Homo sapiens: one gene and its partner. The protein of the gene in region 1 interacts with the protein of each later gene in a pairwise test. Each region holds a gene or a part of one and is shown on either strand. Other genes may lie near its edges.

The links. Proteins that work in one complex are often made in the same cells at the same time.
Region 2: the proteins of PRRX1 (region 1) and CINP interact in binary tests that used the Homo sapiens proteins (3 or more experiments, as listed by UniProt).

What each region holds. Positions count from the first base shown.
Region 1 is NC_000001.11:170,716,102-170,719,756, reverse strand, and holds part of PRRX1 (paired mesoderm homeobox protein 1), read right to left. Parts: intron 32-3,655; coding exon 1-31. UniProt on the Homo sapiens protein: Master transcription factor of stromal fibroblasts for myofibroblastic lineage progression. Orchestrates the functional drift of fibroblasts into myofibroblastic phenotype via TGF-beta signaling by remodeling a super-enhancer landscape.
Region 2 is NC_000014.9:102,347,704-102,350,413, forward strand, and holds the end of CINP (cyclin-dependent kinase 2-interacting protein), read right to left. Parts: intron 2,346-2,710; coding exon 2,216-2,345; intron 1,057-2,215; coding exon 854-1,056; 3' UTR 579-853; downstream 1-578. UniProt on the Homo sapiens protein: Component of the DNA replication complex, which interacts with two kinases, CDK2 and CDC7, thereby providing a functional and physical link between CDK2 and CDC7 during firing of the origins of replication.

The DNA of each region.
Region 1 (3,655 bases):
TTCTTTTTTTCTTCTGAGTTCAGCTGGTCATCTGGAATAGAACACAATGATGAAAAGAAGCCAAATTCACTGTAGGAGTCCCAGTTAAGACTTTTTTATGGTATATCTATAGTGAGATCTTGCTTCATTTGCTCACATCTTTATCAAAGTCCTATAGCCAAATGCCACTTTGCATGTGCAAATGTGGCCATTAGCGCTCTCAAGTTCATATGTCAAGAATCCCAGCAACTCTAATGCTTGGCTGTTGCCTCTAAATCTGGGACAAGATCTGAACTGTCAGAGAGACATTACTTGCATGATCCTTGATGCCTGTTTGTCAAGGAAAATCTTACCCCTGCCCATGTTCTTTGGACTTCTCTAGAGATAAAGGAAGAAGAGTAAATGGTTTTGTACCTTATTTGTCTTTGACAATATTATGCTCACTCATATAGTTTAATAATCAAGTAGACCAATTATCTCCTGGTTCCTTCTCTCCTAACATATATACATGAACAAATACATAGAGTTATAGAGAGGAAACTATGTTCAAACCACATTACAGGGATTTGTTTTACCATGAACTCTCCTTGAAGCAGCAAGTAATTTCTAACACCATTCACTCAAGGCTCCATGCTGTTGCAAAGGCAGGCTTCAGAGGCCTCAGCCTAGATCAGGACTAGTGCTACAATGCCATCAACCCAAGCTAACATTAGCCTGGGGCTCACTCCCTGAGAACCCAAGAACAGGAAACAGTTCAGAAAGATCCCTGAAAATGTTTCACTCAAACTTGAGTTCTAGGACCCTGAGATCTTAGGGACCTTTGAAGAATCACAACTCCATTTTTACCTGTCAAGATCCTTCCTTGGTTTTCTCTGAGTTCCCCTGAAGGTAGCGTGGTGAGATAATTGTCCAGGTTGTCCATAGCAGTCAGAGTGTAGTATGCTCCTCTCCTGCTGCCCCCACCCAGCCCAGTCAGGAGTGATGTATATGTGAAACTGAATGGAATACCAGCTGTGCTGACACCTCAATCAAACTATCACCCTAAGGCCTGAGCTCTGCAGAGCCTGTGTAGGTCCCAGAGATTTGCAACACCATGCTGCCAAAACCCAAGTCACATGCTCCATCTAATGAACTTGACTTACATTCCCCATAGCTTTTCCCCAAAGAGGCTCAGCCCAAAGAAAATTATGAAGTGTTGGAGTGAGGATGGGGAGAACAAGGAGAGCTTGGCCATTCACTATTTAGAAAGTACTTTTGGCTCTCTCTTCTAATATGCAAATTCTCCTGATTCTCTCTGATTATAAACACACAATGTACTCAGCAAAACTATTAGCACAAGTCATGATGACACCTACCTCAGCTATAATATTGTTTTTATTACAAATTGAGGGAATGATCTAGATTTGTGTACAGAGTCAAAATGTAGCTTAAATCCAGAGGCCTGACAACTGAGGCCTCTAAGTCTTTTGCTAAGAGAATCCTTCTTCATCAATGCTTCCTTACCAGGAATACCCTTGAAGCTTAGAATAGAGACTGCACATTTCTTCTTGATAATTAAAGCACCCAGATATAGTAAATGCTTGCTGAGTTTGTTTTCAGGGAAAACGTGAAACTCCTCTTGTCCTTAGAAGACTGTTTCTGTAGAAAAAAATGTCAGATGATCTCAACCAGATTCCTCCAGCCAAGAAGCTACCATACCTTTCTCTCTGCTTCATGGTTTTGTACAGTCCACCTTCTCTTTGGTATTTTACACTTGTGGTGCCTTACCTCAGGGCCCAGCTTTGGTGGCACTTCTGTGACACTCAGTAAGAATGTAAGATCAGCTGCATCTTGGAAATGGAGCAAATTTAATAATAATTTTTGAGATCTACCAATGCCTAAAATATTCCAACCAACATCACTGATTATACCACTAGCTATTAGCAAAATTAGTTTGCAATAAGATCAGCACTAGAATTCAAACACCTAGGATTAAATACCTTTCAGTAGTTACATTGCACTTGCATTCTCCTTCCTATTTAATATTTGGAAGCATTCCTCCCATTCCTATTCATTTTTCCAAATCATTTTGTCTCGTACTTCAGGTCTTTCTAAGTAATACAAGCCCTTGTGATAGCACAATTATCTGAATTTCATGCCCCCAAAACAGAAGTCTGCAAAAAAAAAAAAGAAAAATCCTTAGCTTCTGTACTTTGTTTTAACTGAGACCAATTAGACACTAAGCCATTATTTTTAATCATATAGAGAAAATCCCCTATTAAGCCAATCCCATGACTTGTTTTCTTCTCTCAAAGAAAATTCTTTCTTAGGTGCAACCACAAATTATAAATCTTTTATGTTGTTTCAAAAGCCTATTTCTTCTTGTACTGCCAACTGCAATCAAGACCAAGAATATTTTATGTTTTGTTCTTAGTATTACAACCTGCTACATAATCTCAGTAGTTCTTTGAAATATTCCACTGTTCAATCAAATTCCACTGACTGTCTACCATAAACCACCAACTCCCCTGATGTGGGAGTAAGGGAAATGGAGAATTATAGTTTATGACAGGGAATAAATAGCTATGATGACCTGAAGCAATTCCAGCAAAAGTTTCCCAGTGAATGTTCTTGTTGTTTTTAACAAATGAAAACACTAGTTCAGATCATGTTGAAGGTGAGAAAAGACACAAATAACAGGGATCCAGGGAGTCTGGCTCTGGCAAATGTCCTTCAGAGTGCAAGTATAATAGAAAGAGACGATGAGCGGGCAACAGAGACAGCTCGAGCAGCAGTCCTGGGGATGGTCTGTCTTTGCTCACTAATCACAAAATGTGAGCTCCCTGTTTTTCCCCAAGAATGCAGAACAGGACCCAGCACAGTATCTTCAGCAGTACAAAAGGAAACATAAACACTGTAGAGGTTTACAAATGCAGGGTATCTGAAGGACCTGTGATAAACACATTTATCAGATTCTTGGCTCTGGTTGAATACAGGGGAGAGAAAGCAGTGTATTTTTACTAATTCCAAGAGGGTCATCTTTTCTTGCAAAAACAACTACAGTGAAAGTTGATTTTGAAACATGCTGTCTGAAGATACTGACATCCAACTGGATATTAGAATGCATCTCATTCTTTGGCATTCTAAAATGGGAAGGATTCACCAAGTTGTAGAATAACCAGCGGAAACATGAATACATTTTTTTTTTTTTTTTTGAGATGGAGTCTCGCTCTGTCGCCCAGGCTGGAGTGCAGTGGCGCGATCTTGGCTCACCGCAACCTCCGCCTCCTGGGTTCACACCATTCTCCTGCCTCAGCCTCCCGAGTAGCTGGGACTACAGGCACCTGCCACCACGCCCAGCTAATTTTTTGTATTTTTAGTAGAAACGAGGTTTCACCGTGTTAGCCGGGATGGTCTCGATCTCCTGACCTCGTGATCCACCTGCCTCGGCCTCCCAAAGTGCTGGGATTACAGGCGTGAGCCACTGCTCCTGGCCTACATGGATACATTTTTTATCAAAGTTGCAATGTTTCAAATCCAAAGTGTTTATGGATTTTATAATTTTTTTGATGATTGAGTAAACTGAAAATATGTAGTTATTGTTGCTCTTAGTAAAAACAAGCAAAACAGCCTTATAAATAGGTGTAGTCTTGCTGGGATCATGAGTCATAAAATATTGGCATCTAATGAAACCCAT
Region 2 (2,710 bases), on another chromosome or scaffold:
CTGGAAATGGCTGCAAACATTGTGAAACTCGAGGATTTGTGTCAGAAGAATGCCAGGGAAGGCAGTTTACATCGCTTGCCATGTCCCCAGTATGCAAACAGCGGCAATTTTTTTGTAGGTTATTTTCATTTTCATGATGTCAAACTTCATTTTAACTCCATGGGATCTTATTATTTAAGACGAAGTCTCACTCTGTCGCCCAGGCTGGAGTGCAATGGCTCACAGCAGCCTCTGCCTCCCGGTTCAAGCCATTCTCCTGCCTCAGCCTCTCAAGTAGCTGAGATTGCAGGCACGCGCCACCACGCCAGCTGATTTTTGTATTTTTAGTAGAGACAGGGTTTCATCATGTTGGTCAGGCTGGACTTGAATTCCGAACCTAAAGTGATCCGCCCACCTCGGCCTCCCAAAGTGCTGGGATTACAGGCATGAGCCACCGCACCTGGCCCAAAAACTAATATAGTCTCATAAAAACTTCAACAATCAGATAGGCATAAAGTAAAAATATTAAACCAGGGATTTTCTACACAAACATAATGTATAAAGCATGCCTAATTTATAGAAACTAGATCACTCACTCATTCTGCTCAGAAACTCATTGATTTTACTCTGAAGCACCCACGAATGACAGATTCCCAGGAGGGGCAGAGAAGGCTGAGCAGCACCACGTGGGGCTGGCCGCGGGTTGTGGGCATGAGCACGCCTGGAGAGGCCATGGGGCTGGTGACAAGCTCTGGCCAGAAGACCCCAAGGTCTGATCCTGGGGTCTGATCCAGGCCTGCGGCACTGGGTCCTAGGCAGACTGTCTGCCTGGTGAGACGTGGAAGGAGCCAGTGTCCGCAGCCGTCTCAGGACGTCAGAGAGCTCGGTGGCCTGTCTCCAGCAGCATGCTCTCCAGATGCAGCCTGCTGTCGCTCTCCACATAGGGCTGGTGCAGCCACATGGACAGGTAGCTCAGGGTGAGGTCGGGATCCCCGGTGTGGGCAAGCTCCTTGGCCACCGTGCGCTTCAGGAGCAGCTCCTTCCTGTACATCTCCAAGAGCTTATGCGAAACCTCATCTGAAAGAAACGTGAATCTCCCTTAATGGCAGTGATTCAAGAACATAGTGTCGACTTGGGAAGAACTACATTTTAACAGCTCTTGATTAAAAACCAGAATCAGCAACAGCACTGAGGGGAAGAAGGGCCCGATGGAGTTTACTACTCTAGCTGGTGCAGATTAGTACAATTTGATAACATGGTCAGCAGAGTGAAATAAAAAGTGTATACAAGCCGGGCGTGGTGGCCCACACCTGTAATCCCAGCACTTTGGGAGGCCCAAGTGGGTGGATCACCTGAGTTCAGGAGTTTGAGAACAGCCTAGCCATCGTGGCGAAAACCTGTCTCTACTAAAAAATACAAAAACTAGCCAGGTGTGGTGGCACGCACCTGTAATCTCAGCTACTTGGGAGGCTGAGGCACGAGAATCGCTTGTGCCTGGGAGGCGGAGGCTGTAGTGAGCCAAGATTGCACCACTACACTCCAGCAGGCGTGACAGAGCGAGACTCTGTCTCAAAAAAAGTATATATAACCTTTTCTACTTGACTCTTAGGTGACCTACAGTGATTATCAGTAGGAGATTCCCCTCAAACTGACAATATTTCACTAAACACATTCCACTAGGTGATTTTACCCTTTCCTGCCTTATTTAAAAAGTCTCAGGTCAACATCAAATAGCTTACCCTTGTCTTGAACTAATAAAAGCTAAAAGTAACCCTTTAAGAAGCGCCTCATAGAGTTTACTGAAGCCATGGGTTTCATTTTTCCCAGTCATCTTCCATGAGGTTGGCTGCAGTGACCCTCAATTTGTTTTTTAATTAAAACAAAAAACAAAAGAAAAACCTCAACAAACCAAAAAAACTCCTTTCTTCCTTTCCCCCCCTCAAAATGAGAGATATCTGCTTCCACAGAGGAGGTGGAATTCACTCTGCCCATTGGTTTTAGAGGCCTAATAACAGCAGCTTGCTTCACGGGTCTCTATGTTTCATATACTCTGCTGATAACCAGGTAATTAAAGCCAAGAAGAAATGTTTAAGATGCCTCTGTCTCCTTTCCTCCCGATACTTTTGCATTGAATTTGAAAGCCTTGTCAGCTTCTTAAAGTACCAGATGTAAACGATACTAAATGCCCTTAATAACCTTTACCCTCCTGAAAATCAACTGAGAAGGAACTACTTACAGAAATGGGTTGTAGGCCACGTGTGGAACAGAGGGGGTCGTTTACTCTCCTCCCCATAATGGTAGTTTTCTAGTTCACAAATTCCCTTGGTAGTTGAAGACAGCTTTTCCATTTTCACCTGTATTTTGGTCTGAAAGATATCCATTTGGAATATGATAATATTATTTGAAATCTCCAGTCTCAGATTTAATAACTCTAAGATTTCAAAGCTAAGAAGTGTAAGTCTATTATGATAAAAATTCCAATAACTAAACACTGTTAACTCTACGTACAGCAAATTCCCAGGGAGATGAAGGTGGACAGTTGCTATGATTTCATTAATTTGAATGACTTTGGTAATAAACCCCAGATTTCCAGTCCTAGAGCAAGAAAGGTTTCCGAGTGCCATTTCACTAGGATTTCCAAACAGCATTAATGTCTTAGACCCAAAGACCTGGAGGAATCCCAAGGCAGGCTCTTGCTGCCTTTTTTTTTTTTTCTTTTTTTTTTTGCGAC